Linked DNA regions of Homo sapiens: region 2 is linked to region 1. Evidence: fine-mapped expression QTL. Tissue or cell type: whole blood. Region 1 holds a variant in brackets; the other region holds the start of a gene. All regions are shown on one strand. Distances are from middle to middle. Region 1 holds the start of TOR1A (torsin family 1 member A). Region 2 holds the start of TOR1B (torsin family 1 member B).

Region 1 (9,620 bases):
TCCCAGATTCAAGCGATTCCCTTGCCTCAGCCCCCTGAGTAGCTGAGACTACAGGCACCTGCCACCACGCCCAGCTAATTTTTGTATTTTTAGTAGAGATGGGGTTTCACCATCTTGGCCAGGCTGGTCTTGAACTCTTGACCTTGTGATCCACCCGCTTCGGCCTCCCAAAGTGCTGGGATTACAGGCGCGAGCCACCACACCTGGTCTGTTCATAGAACATTTTACTGTGACCTCCCAAAACCCATCACGGTAGTTACCATTGTGCTCCTTCTTTTACAAATGAGAAAACTGAGGCACAGACAAGTGAAGTAACTTTGCCCAAAGTCACAGTTATTGTTAGTGAAGCCTCAATTCTAAGATGATCAACTTATCCTGATTCGTCTAGAATGGTTCTTGTTTGTTTGGGACAGGGTCTCACTCCGTCACCCAGGCTGGACTGCAGTGGCTGTCTGCTCACTGCAGCCTCGACCTCCCAGGTTCAAGCCATCCTTCTGCCTCAGCCCCCTAAGTAGCTGGGACTACAGGTGCATGCCACCATGCCTGACTAATTTTTTTGTATTTTTTTAGTAGAGATGGGGTTTCACCATGTTCCCCAGGCTGGTCTGGAACTCTTGAGCTCAAGGGATCAGCCGGTTTTGGCTTCCCGTAGTGCTAGAATTATAGGCATGAGCCACCACACCCGTGGAACATTCGCATTTTAGTACAGAACCGCTGGACAGTGGGTGACCCACACGCTCACCCAGACAGAAGGGAAAAATGTGTTCACATTTTTCCATAGATACAGTCAGGGATAAATAACTGATTGAGGCCAGGCATGGTGGCTCATACCTGTAATTTCAGCACTTTGGGAAGTAGAGACAGCTGGATGACCTTGAGGTCAGGAGTTTGAGACCAGCCTGGCCAACAAGGTGAAACCCTGTCTCTATTAAAAATACAAAAATTAGCTGGGTGTGGTGGCAGGTGCCTGTAATACCAGCTACTTGGGAGGCTGAGGCAGCAGAATCACTTGAATCCGGGAGGCAGAGTTTGCGGTGAGCCGAGATCAAGATCCAGATGGTGCTACTGCACTCCAGCCTGGGTGACAAGAATGAAACTCAGTCTCAAAAATAAATAAATAAATAATTGACTGTTTTGCCCATCTTGCAGGTCTGCTACAAGGATCTAAAAGGCAACAGTTAACATTTATTTGTAACATGCACCAGGTACATGTTATGCACTTGACAGACAGAGCTCCCTGGATTGTTACAAGCAACACTTTGTAAGTCAGAATCTGAGTCTCAGGTCAGGCAACTTTCCTAAGACTACGGAGCTGGGAGAGTGTTAGGACTCAAATCCAGATGTGTCTGCTGCCAAAGCCCAAGCTGCTCATCAGTGAGTTCAACCATAAAAGCTGTTTGCGGCTGGGCAAGGTGGCTCACGCCTGTAATCCTAGCACTCTGGGAGGCTGAGGTAGGCAGATCACTTGAGGTCAGGAGTTCGAGACCAGCCTGGCCAATGTGAGGAAACCCCATCTCTACTAGAAATACAAAAATTAGCCGGCTGTGGTGGCACATGCCTGTAGTCACAGCTACTTGGGAGGCTGAGGCAGGAGAATCGCTTGAACCGGGAAGGTGGAGGCTGTAGTGAGCTGAGATGGCGTCACTGCACTCCAGCCTGGACAACAGAGTGAGACCCTGACTCAAAGAAAAAAAAAAAAAGGCAGTTTACAACAGTAGGTTCAACAAACTTAGGACTCTACATGTTTCCTCTTTCACAAAATGAGTGAGATGTGGCCAGGCATGGTGGCTCACGCCTGTAATCCCAGCACTTCGGGAAGCTGAGGCAGGCACATCACCTGAGATCAGGAGTTCGAGACCAGCCTGGCCAAGTTGGCAAAACCCCATCTCTACTAAAAATACAAAAATTAGCTGGGCATGGTGGCAGGACCCTGTAATCCCAGCTACCCGGGAGGCTGAGGCAGGATAATTGCTTCAACCGGGAGGCAGAGGTTGCAGTGAGCTGAGATCATGCCATTGCACTCCAGCCCGGGTAAGAAGAGTGAAACTCCGTCTCAAAATAAAGAAAAAAATAAAAAAATGAGTGAGATGTGTTGATCTCTAAGATGGATTTGATCATGTCCACCTCTAAAATCCCATGACCCTACATACTCACTGGACCGATTTTCAGAACCCACCACAAAGCTTTGATGGTATTAACTGCTCCACGCATCTCAAACTCTTAACTTCTACACCTTTCCAAGGGGAACTGAGACATGAACCGTTTTCCGGGCTCACTCATTTCAACATAGAACTCCCAAATCTCATCCCACAACAAAGAGACCCCAAACCCGATGACATCCAGGAAGGGATTCCAAACTTCCATCCTTGCCTTGTACAAGGTGATGTTTGAAGCATGTGGAAAGTGCAATGTGGCCACAAACAGGTGGACATAGTCACTGTTCAGACCACCCTCGTAAATATTCTCTGCGATGATCTTGCTGACGAAATTTTTGCCGGTGCCTGTCCACCCGTGCAGGGAGAGCGTGAGAGGTTTCTTGGGCTTTGGGTTGTTTATGAAACCAAACACGGCATTTAAGATGATTTTCTTTGCAAGATGCTGTCCAAAGAGGTTGTCGTCCAGATCCTTCTGCAGTGCTGGGAAAGACAAAGCCAATCAGGAGTGGGGAAGAAACAGCGGCAAAATGTAGCCACATTTACAGCCCATAAGAAAGCCAGCAAAGCCGTCTAGACGCCCTCCAAGCACCTTGCGAAACCTCAAGTACTGCGGTCTGTAAGCTCCTGGCCCAGAGGGGACGGCGGTCCAGGGAGCCCTCCCTTTGCTGGTCCTGCCTATTCTAAAGCCCTGGCCCGACTCCTTCCCGAAAAGCCCCTTGGTGCCACTGCCACTGCCACCAGTTTGCACCCCTAACCCCTGTGCTGCTCCTCCCACCCCAAGGCAGAGCCGGGAAAGGAAACAGTTTGGTCCCTCCTGGTCGGCTGCGGAAGAGTCCTCACCATCCTTCCTGTCTCCCGCTAGGCTAGAAAGGAGGCAGAACCCACTTCGGAGGGAGGTTACCACTGGTCCACCCCCAGCTTAGCGCAAAGTAGGCCAACCTGCAGCCTGGCTCCTCAGGTCTCCGACTTAAGTCTGGCACGTCTGTGGTCATGGCCGAGGAGCCAGGCCTCATCCTGCAGGCCGGCCGCTTGGCTTCCGGGGTCCGGCCCCCGCGGACTCAGCTCTGCCCAGGCCCGGCCCTCCTGGGATGTGACCCCTACCCCGGCCTGGCCCTAGTGCCATCCCCCAGCCCCAGCCCCAGCCCCAGCCCCCGCTCCTGAGCCCCAGCCCCCAAACTCCGCTCCAGCCCCAGTCCTAGCCCGGCCCTACTGCCATCCCCCAGCCTCCATCCACCATCCTCAATCCCCTAGCCCCAGCCAACCGCCCTGGTCTTAACCCAGCCCTAGTGCGATCCCCCAGCCCCACCCCCAGCCCCCGGGCCCCGCTCCATCCCCCAGCCCCAGCCCCAGCCCCAACCCGGCCCTAGTGCCATCGCCCAGCCCCAGCCCCCAGGCCCCGCTCCAGCCCTAGTCCTAGCCCGGCCCTGGTGCCATCCCCCGGCCTCCATCCTCCATTCTCCATGCCCTGGTCCTAGTTCAGCCCTAGTGCCATCGCCCAGCCCCAGCCCCAGCCCCAGCCTCCAGCCCCCGCCCCAGCCTACCCTCCCGGCTAAGGCTCCGCTTCTGCCCGCAGCACTCGGCGAAGAGGCAGTAGAGACGCGGGTAGATGTAGCCGGTGAGGACGCCGGCCAGGGCCAGTCCCAGGCTGATGGGCTCCACCGCCTGCACCACGGACGGCGCCAGCAGCAGCAGGCCCAGCACGGCCCGGCCCAGCTTCATGCCCGGACCCGCGCCACCCTGCTTGTTCTCGCGCCGACCGCGAACCGGTGCAGCCGCCAGACCCACGCTTCCGGTTCCTCCTCTCGCGGAGGCCATCTTTCTTCAGGGCAGCCCTCCTCCCGACGCCGGCGGCCGCCATCTTTGTTCGGTACAAAGCCCTGTTTTGCTTCCGGAAACTCGGTTCTGCTCCGCCCCTGTTGGCCACGTGTTTTTGTTTATGGACGTTATTTTTGCCAGGCATGGTGGCTCCTGCCTGTAATCCCAGCCCTTTGGGAGGCTGAGGCGGGCGGATCACCTGAGGTCAGGAGTTCGAGACCAGCCTGACCAACATGGTGAAACCACGTCTCTACTAAAAATATAAAATTAGCCGGGTGTGGTGGTAGGCACCTGTAGCCCTAGCTACTGGGGAGGCTGACACATGAGAATCGCTTGAACCCAGGAGGCGGAGATTGCAGTGAGCCGAGATCTCACCACTGCACTCCAGCCTGGGAGACAGAGCAAGACTGTGTCCCCTCCCCGCAAATAATAATAATAATAATAATAATAATAACGGACGTTATTTTTTAGAACAGATTTACAGAAAAATTGAGAAGATAGTAGAGAGTTCCCATGTGCCACCCATCCCTGCAATTTCCCCTATTACTAAAATCTTACATTATTAGTGTGCTACATTTGTTAAAATTAACGATGCACTGTTGTCATATTAACTAAAGTGTAGTTTATTCAGATTTCCTTCCTTTTACTTAATGCCTTTTTCTGCTGCAGGTTTCCATTCAGGATACCACATTATATTTCGTTGTCATGTCTTAGACTACTGTTAATGACAGTGTCTCAGCCTTTTATTTTTATTTTAGCTGGAGTGCAGTGGCATGATCTCAGCTCACTGCAACCTCTGCCTCCCAGGTTCAAGCGATTCTCCTGTCTCAGCCTCCTGAGCAGCTGGGATTACAGGCACACACCACCATGCCCGGCTAATTTTTGTATTTTTGGTAGAGACGGGGTTTCACCATGTTGGCCAGGATGGTCTTGATCTGACCTCATGATCTGCCCGTCTCAGCCTCCCAAAGTGCTGGGATTACAGGCGTGAGCCACCGCGCCTGGCCTCAGCTTTTTATTTTTGATGACCTTGATAGTTTTGAGGAGTACTGGCCAAATCTTTGGTGGGCTGGCCCTCTATTGGGATTTGATGTTTTTCTCAGGATTAGACAAGCGTTATGGCGTTTTGGAAGGAAGATCACAGAGGTAAAGTGCTATGCTCATCACATCCTACCAAGGAAGGGTTCTTACTGTTCAACGTTACTTACCACTGTTGGTGCTGACTTGATCACTTGACTGAAGTAGTGTTTGTCAGGTCCCCCCACCCCTCTTTTCTCTACTGTACTCTTTGGAAGGACGTCCCCATGCACAGCCCACACGTAAGGAGTCGGGGATTTTGCTCCACCTCCTTGGGGGCAGAGTATCTACAGAAATTATTTGGAATTCTGCATGGGAGATTTGTTTCTTCTCCCCCATGTATTCAATCATTTATATCAGTGTGGACCATTGTTATTTTATCCTTTGTTATACTACAGTACTAATTTTTTTTTCAAATTGTTCTCATTTTGGCCACTGGGAATTTGAGTGGTTCCTTGTGCTCCTTTGACATACACCCAGTGTATATACCAGCTTATTTGGGTTTGAGTGCCTCTTTCCTTTCTGACACTACAGGATACTCCGGGCTCATCTTGTATTTCCTGCCCCAGTCCTAGAATCCTATTTTCTACGAGGAACCCTGATTCCTTTCATTGTAAAATGGCATTAGAAACTGGCTGGGCATGGTGGCTCATGCCTGTAATCCAGCATTTTGGGAGGCTGAGGCAGGTGCATCACCTGAGGTCAGGAGTTTGGGACCAGCCTGACCAATATGGTGAAACCCC[A/G]TCTCTACTGAAAATACAAAAAAATTAGCTAGGCATGGTTGCGTGTGCCTGTAGTCTCAGCTACATGGGAGGCTGAAACAGGAGAATTCCTTGAACTTGGGAGGTGGAGGTTGCAGTGAGCCGAGATCGCACCACTGCACTCCAGCCTGGGTGACAGAGCGAGACTTCGTATCAAAAAAAAAAAAAAAAAAAAAAAAGAGAAACCAAGGTCTGGGTGCTAGGTGTGCTTCTTGCTATTGAGATGTCATTTCTTTCAGTCTCAGCTGACAGAAAAAAATGTGTGTATATACTGTTAAACACACACATATCTATAAATATTTTTATAGGTAAACATCTGTACCTATATTAAGCTAAACATGAGCTCGTGCTGACATCTCCAACTCTAATCCATTACACAGATCATTGGAGCCTCCTCCCCTTGTTTATCTGTGAATTCCCACCCCAACAGTGAGAGAACCAGCTCCCTCCATCTGGCAGCCACTTTTAAGCTGGATAAAAGATTACTCATTTTCTAGCAAAGGGAACTCTGGCAAGTGAGAACTGTTGACCATCCACTTATTTGCCTGTTCATCCCATAAACACGTGTTGCGTTGCTGTGTGCCAGATGTGCTAGGCCTTTAGTATTCATCTTGGGTTACCCCTGCACATCGCTGGGACCTGTAAATGTTTGTTGAAATATCCTGAAAATATTTTTTAAGTTTCGACTTTTTCGTATTGGATTTAAAATACTTTTGTGCACCTGTTACAAGCCAAACACTATAGGGATCATTCATAGTTTTGAGGACTGCCTATCTGTCAGATTATGGGCTATGCCCTGGGGATTCAAATTTAAAAATTAGGCACACATGGTTCCTGCCTTCACTGACCATATTCAAGTGGAGGAAAAAAAAAAATCTCCATTTTACAGATGAGAAAACTGAGGCTAAGAGTGAAAAGGATCTGTCCAAGGACACAAGTAGTAAGCTGCGAGGTGGGCTCAGATCTGACTCCTGGGCCAAACCACTGTAACCACAATACCTGCTCTAAATCCACCCAGAAGTCAGCCAATCTGCTCTTTCCTCTTTTGGACCCCTGTGGATGCCTCAGGAAAAATGAGGGCACAGGTAAGAAGGTACTTGACAGCAGGTTGCAGCATGTCTATGCTGCAGTGGTCCAATCATAGCTCACTGTTTGAAATAAATGAGAAAATCCATCTCAGTAATTCAGTTTTACATTTAGGCTACCCAAACCATGGGCTTTAAAAACATTACCTGATGCTGGTATAAGAAACATAATACAAACAATAAGGTTGGATTCATTTTGAAATTTAATAATTCTAATAGTAATAAGAAACATAGTTTATGCTTTTTTTTTAATGAAAACAAACAAGTAATTTTGTAAAAGTCAGAAAACACCAGTATCCTTCTGATCTCATCCTGGATTTTTCTGTCAGCTGGAGGATGCATTTCTGACCCCATCCCAGACACGTGAAAGCAGAAGACATGATGCATCTATAATAATGAAAGCACAATCTAAAGAGTATTATCACACCGTGAACAGCTTCTTCCTGACCCAGAGCAAATATTAAGAGAAAGACAATATATTTACAAACAAGATTTAATAATGCTCACAAGAATAGAGTTTGCCCCCAAATGGAAAATTACACATTATTTTGTTTCAAAAAGTTATAAATTTAGTGCTTGAAAAATCCAGCAGGTAAGTAGAAGGACTAACAGGGTCTGTTTCTGGAACTGTCCGCCAGCAAATGAGCATGCTCTGTCCTGGAAGCCATTTTTCTTTTTCTTTTTTTTTTTTTTTTTTTTTTTTGAGACAGAGTTTTTTGCTCGTTGCCCAGGCTGGAGTACAAAGGTGCAATCTCGGCTCACCACAACCTCCGCCTCTTGGGTTCAAGCAATTCTCCTGCCTCAGCCTCCTGAGCAGCTGGGATTACAGGCATGTGCCACCACGCCTGGCTAACTTTTCTGTATTTTCAGTAGAGACTGGGTTTCTCCATGTTGGTCAGGCTGGTCTCAAACTCCCGACCTCAGGTGATCCGCCCACCTCGGCCTCCCAAAGTGCTGGGATTACAGGCAGGAGCCACCACGCCCGGCCAGGAAGCCATTTTTCATGGGAGGGATATAGGGAGAGGAAGGCGATATTTACATCCCACTCTGCACAACTCAGTACCGCCTATTCATTTTCTTGAACTTCTCATAATGATAGTCATCAGTTGCCTTCTCGTTAGCAGGACGCTTGCGGTTAGGAGGGGACCCTGAGAAGGAAAAGAACAGGAAAGGTGGTTTGCCATGCTGGAACCCACTGCTAGACTTTACTCCATGCAGGCAAAGACAACTGCCTGTTTCCTTCCCCACAGGAGCCCCAGCGCCTAACCCAGTGAACACAGTAGGGCCTCAGTAGATACGTATTTGTCTTTTTTTTTTTCTTTTCTTTTCTTTTTTTTGAGATGGAGTCTCACCCTGTTGCCCAGGCTAGAGTGTAATGGCATGATCTCAGCTCACTGCAACCTCCAACTCCCGAGTTCAAGTGATTCTCCTGCCTCAGCCTCCTGAGTAGCTGGGATTACAGGCACCTGCCACCTCACCTGGCTAATTTTTGTATTTTTAGTAGAGACGGGGTTCACCATGTTGGCCAGGCTCGTCTTGAACTCCTGACCTTAGGTGATCTGCCTGCCTCTGCCTCCCAAAGTGCTGGGATTACAGGCATGGGCCACCGAGCATGGCCAATACCTTTTTCTTTTCTTTAAAAAAAAGATGTGGTCTCACTCTGTCACGCAGGCTAGAGTGCAGTGGTCCAATCATAGCTCACTGCAGCCTTGAACTCTTAGTCTCAAGCAATCCTCCTGTCCCAGCTTCCCCAGCAGCTGAGACTACAAGTGTGAGGCACTGCACCCAGCTAACCTTATGAGTAGCTTTTATTTGTCCTTACTGAAATTTTCTAACTTCTTGAGTCTCTACTGTGCGTGAGAATATGAGAGAGTATGAATTCTCAGAGTAATCCTAACAGGTAGGTTCTATTAGGATTCCAATGAGGAAACTGAGGCTTAGAAAGGGGAAGGCACATAGTCATGGTCCAGAGCATGGACTGGAACCCATATGCCCCGGCTCCAATGCCAGGCTCCACCCTGTCCCCCGCTGCATCCTGCCTCCATGGGTTCCCACATTGCTGAGCACTCCAGGCAGCCCCGAGGCCTTTGTTGCACTCACGCTCAGGCTCTGGCTTCTCCGTGTCACCTACTCTCAAGGGCCGGGCCTTGGGCTCTTCTTTGTTTCTCCGTATGGGCGCGTTGAGCTCCTCATGATAAACTGGACCCAAAGAGACCAGGGGACACGTTAGAACATGAGGTTCCTAGGGATCTCAGCCCAAATAGGGGAATGGGGGCAAGACTGCTCTCCGAGGGGCTTACATCTGTTGTGCTGCACATAATTCACAGCCATGTTGGTAGGCACGAAGGAGGTCTCGCTGTCTTTCTTCTTGTTCTGCTGCTCTGCCAGCAGACGGGCCTTGGCATCCTCCGTGGAAATGATATTTTTTATTTTAGCACTATGGAGAGAAAGAAACCACACCACTTAGAAGATGATAGCACCTTACTACTCAGACATGAGTGGTGAGGCTGGCAGCCCAGCAGTACATAAGAAAATCATGTGTCCTGGGGCACAGCTCTCCACTTTATCAAGCACACTTGTAGTCACATTCTCACGGGACTCTCACGGCTGTCGGAGAACCACAGTTACTCTGCTCTTCTGATCAAGAGCAAATTGAGCTTCAGAGAAGTAAAATGCTTAAGGCTCAAAGTTTGTAAAGGCCAGAAAAGAGCCCAGAAGCCTCCCAG
Region 2 (9,620 bases), 22 kb before region 1:
GTGCAGTGGCACGATCTCGGCTCACTGCAACCTCTACCTCTTAGGCTCAAGTGATTCTCTTGCCTTAGCCCCCCGAGTAGTTGGGATTACAGGCACCCGATACCACACCTGGCTATTTTTTGTATTTTTTAGTAGACAGGGTTTCACCATGTTAGCCAGGCTGGTCTTGAACTCCTGGCCTTAAATGATCCACCTGCCTCCCCAAATGCTGGGATGATTGGCGTGAGTGACTGTGCCCAGCCCCTCAAGCCTTTTTTTTTTTTTTTTTTGAGATGGAGTCTCACTCTGTCGCTCAGGCTGGAGTGTAGTGGCATGATCTGAGTTAACTGCAACCTCCGCCTCCCGGGTTCAAGCGATTCTCCTCCCTCAGCCTCCCGAGTAGCTGGGATTACAGGCACATGCCACCATGCCCGACTAATTTTTTGTATTTTTAGTAGAGATGGGGTTTCACCGTGTTAGCTAGGATGGTCTCGATCTCCTGACCTTGTGATCCGCCCGCCTCGGTCTCCCAAAGTGCTGGGATTACAGGCGTGAGCCACTGCGCCCATCCTCAAGCCCTTTTTATAAGGGTATGAATTCCATTAATGAGGGTAGAGCCCTCTTGGCCTAATCACCTCGAAAAAGGCTCCACCTCTTACGACCACCACAATGGAGACTAACCATGGCACCAATCCACTTGTGTCTTGCAGGACATCGTGTGTATTTTGCTTGATGAATATCAGTTACTGAGTTTTGTAATTCCAGATCTATCTAAACACCACTCATCAAATCCTGCCAGCACCCCGGTATAATCCTTAAAGACAACAAACATTTCCTTTGTGAGCTAAACTGTCTCTCCTGACTTGTGAACTTCACAGGATGGTTGAGAGGGTCAAAGGAGGTGATAGTCCCAGCAAATGGTTCCTGTTGAACTCTTACTCTATGCGGTGCTAAGTGCTCCACGTGCATCAGCTCACTGGTACCCCAGCAACTCCAAGAAGGGACTGTTGTGATCCCCACTTTACAGTTAGGGAAACTGAGTCCCAGAAAGGTGGCATCACATTTCCAGAGCCACTCAGCTAGGAAGAAAGGGAACAAACCAGGTTGTGATTTATAATCCCAACCTCCTCTTCTCCCTCCCAACTCCTGATGCTGCAAAGCCTCTGGAGACAGCAGAGCTGCCCCTTTGTCCCACGTGGCTGCGCCCTGATGAACACACCGGACTTGTCCAAGGCAGCCTCTTGGTCCTCAGGGTCAGCTGGAGAAGCATTTCAATTAGACAGACAGCATGGCCCTGGGTGCCAGGCTGCTTGTTAGACGGCCCTTGGAGAGATGCCGGGACAGCCTGACTCTTTCGGGCAGTGGTGGTGACATTCCTTGTGGTGGGACTTTCCTGCCTTAGGCCAGGCCTCTTCAGCCTGGGGTATGTGACCCTCTGAGGTAGGTGAAGACTTCCTAAGGGTGCATAAGAGTGGATCACTCTAAGGATCCTAATTCCAGAAACTCAACCTCTTTCTTCTTTCCTCCCTGGGTATGGCACCGGTGGCCCCAGCGGCCCCATGCTCCTTCTCATTTCCCCTTTCCCATTGGACTCTGGCTACTTGGAAAGGGGAAAAGTCACTTAGTAATTTCTTCCTATGGATATATGAAGTAAATGGAAAAAAAAAAGAGAACCCCAACCATCCTATTAAGAGATACATTTTCCATACACTTTTAGTTATTTAATTACTTATAAAAAGTTTGTGGGCTAAGAGTGGTGGTTCACATCTGTAATCCCAGCACTTTGGGAGGCCGAGGCAGGCGGATCACTTGAGGTCAGGAGTTCCAGACCAGCCTGGCCAACACGGTGAAACTGCATCTCTACTAAATCTCTACTAAAACTACAAAAAGTAGGCCGAGCGCGGTGGCTACACCTGTAATCCCAGCACTTTGGGAGGCCGAGGTGGGCAGATCACGAGGTCAAGAGTTCGAGACCAGCCTGGCCAACATGGTGAAACCCCGTCTCTACTAAAAACAGATGGGCATGGTAGTGCACACCTGTAATCCCAGCTACTGGGGAGGCTGAGGCAGGAGAATGGCTTGAACCCAGGAGGCAGAGGTTGCAGTGAGCGGAGATCATGCCACTGCACTCCAGCCTGGGTGACAAAGCGAGACTCCATCTCAAAAAAAAAAAAAAAAAAAAAATAGCTGGGCATCGTGATGCACACGTGTAATCCCAGCTACTCGGAGGCTGAGGCAGGAGAATTGCTTGAACCTAAGAGGCAGAGGCTGCAGTGAGCTGAGATCATGCCACTGCACTCTGCACTCCAGCCTGGGCAACAGAGTGAGCTGCTGTCTCAAAAAAAAAAAAAGTTTAAGCCACTTCCCACGGCCAACTTCTATTCTTTTTTTTTTTCTTCTTTTTTTTGAGACGGAGTCTTGCTCTGTCGCCCAGGCTGGAATGCAGTGGCGCAATCTTGGCTCACTGCAACCTCTGCCTCCTGGGTTCAAGCCATTTTCCTGTCTCAGCCTCCCGAGTACCTGGGATTACAGGCGCGCACCACCACACCTGGCTAATTTTTGTATTTTTTGTAGAGACGGGATTTCACCATGTTGGCCAGGCTGGTCTCGAACTCCTGACCTCAGGTGACCTGCCTGCCTCGGCCTCCCAAAGTCCTGGGATTACAGGCATGAGCCAGTGCACCTGGCCCTTCCATTCATTCTTTAGATCGCAACTGAGATAGGGAGGAGAAGATCCCTCCCCACCCACAGGCCTCTGTGCATCCTGCATTACAGCCTTGGCCCACCCTGGACATAAGCTGCCTGCTTGCTCATCTGTCTCCCTGACTAGTTACCTGGACCACGGCAACAGCCTCTTCACTGGCTCTCTGCCTTCCATTTCTTGTGAACCCAGCAGCCAGAATGATCTCTGATCTGACCATGTTGCTTCCTGTGTAAAACCCTCTGTGGCTCCCTATTACCCCCCAGAACAGAGGCCAAACTCCTTACAACATTCGCAAGGACTTCACCTTCCAGTCTCTGCCTGATTCTTCATCCCTATCTCTCACCACCTTCCGCCATGTGGAATCCTTTCAGTTCTCCAAACTGACTGTTGTTTTCTGCCTAAAACACTCTACTCATTTTTTGCCTGGCCTAACTCCCTCAGTGCCCAGCTTAGACAAAAGCCTTCCCTGTACCACTGTCCGATACTTCTCTGCCCACTCAGCATTGAGTCTCACCCCTTTGTCGGCCTCCCCCATAGACCGTCAGCTCTGAGAGGGCAGGGGCCAACTCCGTCCCCTCCTCTGCTGTCGTTCCTGGCATCCAGCAAGGGGCCTGCCACCTAGCGTGCTGAATGAAAGAATGGACCTCGGGATTTCAGTGTGGAAGCCTGGGCAGGTCTGTCTTGGGGCCGCTGCATCCCCAGTGCTCAGTCTAGGGCGCAGCACGGAGAGTTCGCAACTGTTTCAGGAAGAAGGCAGGCGGGTGGGCCGACCCAAGAAACGCACATTATACCTCCGGCGAAGTGAAGGGAGGGATAACAAAGCAAAGCTTGAGGGCTCCGAGAAGCTCTGAAGAAAACAAATCCAGCCATAAGCCCACTCCTGTAACCCCAGGCTTTGGAAGACGGAGGCAGGTAGATCGCTTGAGGTCAGGAGTTCGAGACCAGCTTGGGCCACATGGCGAAACCCCGTCTCTACTAAAAACACAAAAGTTGGCTGGGCGTGTTGGCGGGCACCTATAATCCCAGCTACTCCAGCAGCTGAGATGGGAGAATCGCTTGAACCTGGGAGGAAGAGTTTGCAGCGAGCCGAGATCCTGCCACTGCGCTCCAGCCGGGGCGACAGAGCCAGACCCTGTCCCCAATATACATATCAGATAAGAAAAAAATATAAGAAAGTTTAAAAAAATTTTTTTTGGCTTTTTTTTGTTTTTTTTGAGACGGAGTCTCGCTCTGTCGTCCAGGCTGGAGTGCAGTGGCACGATCTCGGCTCACTGCAAGCTCCGCCTCCCAGGTTCACGCCATTCTCCTGCCTCAGCCTCCCGAGTAGCTGGGACTACAGGCGCCCGCCACCATGCCCGGCTGATTTTTTCTATTTTTCGTAGTGATGGGATTTCACTGTGTTAGCCAGGATGGTCTTGATCTCCTGACCTCGTGATCCGCCTGCCTCGGCCTCCCAAAGTGCTGGGATTACAGGCGTGAGCCGCCGCGCCCGGCCAGCCTTTTTTTTTTTTTTTGAGACAGTTTCGCTCTTGTCGCCCAGGCTGGAGTGCAGTGGCACGATCTCGGCTAACTGCAACCTCCGCCTCCTGGGTTCAAGAGATTCTCCTGCCTCAACCTCCCGAGTAGCTGGGATTACAGGCGCCCGCCACCACACCCATCTAATTTTTTGTATTTTTAGTAGAGACGGGGTTTCGCCACGTTGAGCAGGCTGGTCTCGAACTCCTGACATCAGGTGATCCGCCCGCTTCAGCTTCCCAAAGTGCTGGGATTACAGGCGTGAGCCACGGCGCCCGGCCAAAAAAAAAAAATTTTTTTTTTTTTTTTTAGATATTTTTTCACTCTTGTTGCCCAGGCTGGAGTGCAATGGCGTGATCTCGGCTCGGCCTCCCAAAGTCCTGGGATTACAGGCGTGAGCCACCGCGCCCGGCCCGAAAAAATTTTTTTAAAAGAAAAGGGAAACAAAACAGTCTCCTACACCTTCGGACCACTCCCAAGAACGATGGCACCGCCCTCCTCTCCGCCCCTCACCAACATGGCCGCCCCCAAGGGAGTGGGCGGGTCTGCGGGGCGGAAGTGACGCACGAGAGGAAGTCCGTCCTGCCGCTTGGCCGCGGGGCGCCTGGCTCAGTGGCTTCTGCGGGCTTCGAGGAGCGGGATGTTGCGGGCTGGGTGGCTCCGGGGCGCGGCGGCGCTGGCGCTGCTGCTGGCGGCCCGAGTGGTGGCGGCGTTCGAGCCCATCACCGTGGGCCTAGCCATCGGGGCCGCGTCGGCCATCACCGGCTACCTGTCCTACAATGACATCTACTGCCGCTTCGCCGAGTGCTGCCGCGAGGAGCGGCCGCTCAACGCTTCGGGTACGGCGCGCGCGCGAGCTGTGGGTCGGCGCTGCGGGGGGCGCGGGGGCGCGGGGGCGCGGAGGGACGGCCTCGTGGGCGCCTGGCACGGACCGGGCCCGTGGCATCTAGACGGCGGTGGTCCCAGCTGGGGTGGGCGGGGAGCGGATGGGGCGGCCCCGGAACCGTTCGCGGGAACGCAGAAGCGGTGCCTTCGCAAACAGTCTCCAGATCGTGGGGCTGCCCCAGCGCCTTTCTAAAGCTCCCGTTCCTTGGGATCACAGGTGGAAGAAACGGAAAGTAGGCGGGCGGCCCTTCTGCGCCCTGCCAACCCTATTAAGTAGTTTTCAGACGTGCTGCGTCGCCCAGAAAGCCCACATTTGGCCCCTGGTTTTCCTGCAGGTCAGCAAGGGTGGCTGGGATTAGCAAGCGCTCAGTCAAGCGATGGTTCATCTCTGAATGAATGAACATTTAGCTTCCTTATCAGACCCCGAAGCGTTAAGGACCTCCACATAATCTTGAAAGTGGCATCGTTTGACTGCCTCGGCCCTAGGGTGTGGCAGACACCCTGCTGTGTCCCTGGATAATCTGTGCTTCTTGCTTTGGCCAGCTAAGAAAGTGCTGCGTTGCTGATGCATTTTTAAGGTCTGTTTCTCTCTTTGTTCTGGGGCTGTTCTTGCAGCTCTCAAGCTGGATTTGGAGGAGAAGCTGTTTGGACAGCATCTAGCCACGGAAGTGATTTTCAAGGCGCTGACTGGCTTCAGGAACAACAAAAATCCCAAGAAACCACTGACCCTTTCCTTACACGGCTGGGCTGGCACAGGCAAGAATTTTGTCAGTCAAATTGTGGCTGAAAATCTTCACCCAAAAGGTCTGAAGAGTAACTTTGTCCACCTGTTTGTATCGACTCTGCACTTCCCTCATGAGCAGAAGATAAAACTGTACCAGGCAAGAGAACCCGCTATTATCTCGTCTGCAGGCCAGTCGGACTGGTCCGGGTGACCTGCTCACTAACTCTGGCCTCTGCTTCTCTTTCCTTTGTGTTGCTGTAGCCCCCGGCTCCACTGAGTTAAGGCACACTTAGTCCAGGTAGTTACAAAGCTCTCCTACAACATTTCTCTTACTTGGTTCCAAAACAGTCCAGTGGGGTAGGGGATGTTATTTCCATTAAAAGATGGGGAGCCAAGGGCCTGGCGCCGTGGCTCACGCCTGTAATCCCAGCATTTTGGGGAAGCCGAGGCGGGCGGATCATTTGAGGCCAGGAGTTTGAGACCAGCCTGGCCAACATGGTGAAACCCCATCTCTACCTAAAAGTACCAAAATTACCTGAGCACGGTGGCACGCACCTGTAATCCCAGCTACTTGGGAGGCTGAGGCAGGAGAATCGCTTGAACCTGGGTGGCAGAGGTTGCAGTGAGCTGAGATCGCGCCACCGTACTCGGTCTCAAAAAAAAAAAAAAAAAAAAGGCCTGGCACAGTGGCTCACGCCTGTAATCCCAGCACTTTCGGAGGCCGAGGGGGGCGGATCACGAGGTCAGGAGATGGAGACCATCCTGGCTAACACGGTGAGACCCCGTCTCTACTAAAAATACAAAAAATTAGCCGGGGATGGTGGCGGGCACCTGTTGTCCCAGCTACTCGGGAGGCTGAGGCAGGAGAATGGCCTGAACCCGGGAGGCGGAGCTTGCACTGAGCCGAGATCGCGCCACTGCACTCCAGCCTGGGCGACACAGTGAGACTCTGTCTCAGAAAAAAAAAAAAAAAAGAGAGATGTAGTCAGGGCCAGGTGCAGTGGCTCACGCCTGTAATCCCAGCACTTTGGGATCCGCCAAGGCGGGCGGATCACCTGAGGTCGGGAGTTCGAGACCAGCCTGACCAACATGGAGAAACCCCGTCTCTACTGAAAATACAAAATTAGCCGGGCGTGATGGCGTGCGCCTGTAATTCAAGCTACTTGGGAGGCTGAGGTTGCAGTCAGCTGAGAATGGGCCACTGCACCCCAGCCTGGGCAACAGAATGAGACTCTGTCTCAAAAAAAAAGAAAAAAAAAAAAGATGGAGCCTGGAGCCCAGAGGCAAGGTGACTTACTCCTACAATCTTTGTAGCAGAACAGGACCTTTGTAGCAGAACCAAAACCTCCCAACTCCCAGTTGACATGGTAGCCACCTTCTCTGGTGAGTGAAGGGATTCCACATCCCCAGCAGTGCAGTTGGTGAGAAGGGGCAGTCAGTCTTCAAGGATTTGCTCCGGTGTGGCTTCATTCAATGCTGCCCACCTCTGGTGCAGCCTCAGCTTTGCCTCTGCTCTTTGCAATGTAGCCTAGAGGTCTTTTTTCTCCTTAACAGGTTTTATTCCCTTTGTTCCTCCCATCCTTCATGTCCTTGGCATTGCTTTCTTCAAAGGAAGCCTCAAAGAACTGAACCTTGAGACTGTTTCTCCTTTTGAGATATTGTTTCCACATTCATTTTATATTAAGTTGTCTAGGAGGGTTAGTTCTCATTTAAATGAATGTTGTCCTTGTCAAGGTTAACATTCCCACTGGCAACATAGCAAGACTCCATCTCTACAAAAAATAAAAAAATTAGCCAGGTGTAGTGGCATGCACCTGTAGTCCCAGCTACTTGGGAGGCTGAGATGGGAGGATCGCTTGAGCCCGGGAGGCTGAGCCTACAATGAACCATGGTCATGTCACTGCATTCCAGTCTGGGCGACAGAGTAAGACTCTATCTCAAAAAAAAAAAAAAAAAATTCCTCCTGTTAGGTGGGGACTGAAGAAAGAAATAGAAACTTAACTGAACAAGGAAGTAGAAGTGTTTGCCCAACAAACTGACGTGAGACAGGGAAGACTGCTAAAAAGGAAGGAAGGAAGGATTTTCTTGTTCTTTACATTCTTCATAAATCTCCGGAAACAGAGTAATATAAATGGTTGAGGGCATGTCTGGGGGAGTTTCCTGGTATAGCCTTTCACGCTTTGGGGTTGAGGGCTTGTTGCTTGAGTGTCTTTATGTTTGTTTGAAGAAAACATCTGGAACAGATGCTTTTCATGAAATGTCATTGAGTCAGCTCTGTTGGTCTGGGGCACTGTGTACTGTGCAGGTCTTGATCTAGTTCCTTATTCCTCAGTATGTCTGATAGTACTAACTTGAGATTGTAGTCCAAGAGAGATGAAAACTATGGCTACGTTAGCAGTGAATGATATTCACGGATCTTGCCGGGTGGCTCATTCCTGTAATCTCAGCACTTTGGGAGGGTGAGGTGGGTGGATCACCTGAGGTCAGGAGTTTGAGACGAGCCTGGCCAACATGGCACAACCCTGTCTCTACTAAAAATACAAAAATTAGCCAGGCATGGTGCAGGGGATCGGGGCGCCTGTAGTCCCAACTACACGGGGGGCTGAGGCCGGGGAATCGCTTGAACCCAAGAGGCAGAGGTTGCAGTGAGCTGAGATCACGCCACTACACACCAGCCTGGGGGATAGAGTGAGACCCTGTTTCCAAAGACAAAAAAGAGAAGAAAAGAATCACGGATCTTGTACCTCTTATACCTTTAAAAAGTCAGATTTAATAGTCATTTGAGTTAGGAAAAAACTTCTCTGCATTTTAGCATCTATCTCTGCCAATTTCCACTTTTTAGAGATAAGGTTTTAGAAAAGCTGCTACCTAGCGAGTGGGGGTGAGGGTGCCATTCTAAGAGCTCTGACCTCGTCCTTCAGTGCATGAGGAGCAGATGGAGCCTGCGCGCCTCTTGGTGCACCCTTTGAGCTTCGCATCCTGTTTCTTCTTTCATGGTTGGTCCAGGACCAGTTACAGAAGTGGATCCGCGGTAATGTGAGTGCATGTGCGAACTCTGTTTTCATATTTGACGAGATGGATAAATTGCACCCCGGGATCATTGACGCAATCAAGCCGTTTCTAGACTACTACGAGCAGGTTGACGGAGTGTCTTACCGCAAAGCCATCTTCATCTTTCTCAGGTCAGCGGGAGGCGGTTTTTTGGGGCACACAAGCCCTTCATTCTCTCAATGATAAAATGAGGTCCTGAGGACCATCAGCACTTTGTTTACCAGGACGAAAGTGCCTGCTTGGCACAAGGCACTTACCTACTGCTTTACTTTTCCTTTGCCAGTCTCAGCATGGCACACAGTGTGGGTTGTGGAAATGAACTAAAGAAATAATCACTGGGCCAGGCGCGGTGGCTCACACCTGTAATCCCAGCACTTTGGGAGGCCATGGCGGGCGGATCACCAGGAGATCGAGACCATCCTGGCTAACATGGTGAAACCCTGTCTCTACTAAAAATACAAAAATTAGCCGGGCGTGGTGGCGGGCGCCTGTAGTCCCATCTACTCGGGAGACTGAGGCAAGAGAATGGCGTGAACCCGGGAGGCGGAGCTTGCAGTGAGCCGGGATCACACCACTGCACTCCAGCCTGGGTGACAGAGTGAGACTCTGTCTCAAAAAAAAAAAAAAAAGAAATAATCACTGATAGCAGGCAATTTTAGCTGGGCATCGTGGCATGTGCCTGGAGTCCCAGCTCCTGGGGAAGTCGAGGCAGGAGGATTGGTTGAGCCCAGGAGTTCAAGGTTTTATTGAGCTATGATCATA

What was found. PIP is the estimated chance that this variant, and not a neighbour inherited with it, causes the effect.
Region 2: it holds the start of TOR1B, and the variant in region 1 is fine-mapped to the expression of TOR1B in whole blood (INTERVAL, PIP above 0.99). The same link has a PIP of 0.9 or more in nasal epithelium.

What each region holds. Positions count from the first base shown.
Region 1 is chr9:129,820,211-129,829,830 of GRCh38, forward strand. TOR1A (torsin family 1 member A) reads right to left here and starts at 3,926. Exons shown (of 5, transcript NM_000113.3): 1 at 3,698-3,926; 2 at 2,371-2,636. The coding sequence starts at 3,875. It overlaps C9orf78 (chromosome 9 open reading frame 78), which reads right to left. Exons shown (of 9, transcript NM_016520.3): 7 at 9,195-9,331; 8 at 8,995-9,093; 9 at 7,080-8,042. The coding sequence ends at 7,951. RefSeq lists silencers at 3,311-3,400, 7,840-8,134 and an enhancer at 3,811-4,120. The variant A/G (reference allele first, on the strand shown) is at 5,792.
Region 2 is chr9:129,798,375-129,807,994 of GRCh38, forward strand. TOR1B (torsin family 1 member B) reads left to right here and starts at 4,810. Exons shown (of 5, transcript NM_014506.3): 1 at 4,810-5,037; 2 at 5,699-5,964; 3 at 8,814-8,989. The coding sequence starts at 4,839. RefSeq lists silencers at 4,890-5,019, 5,080-5,199.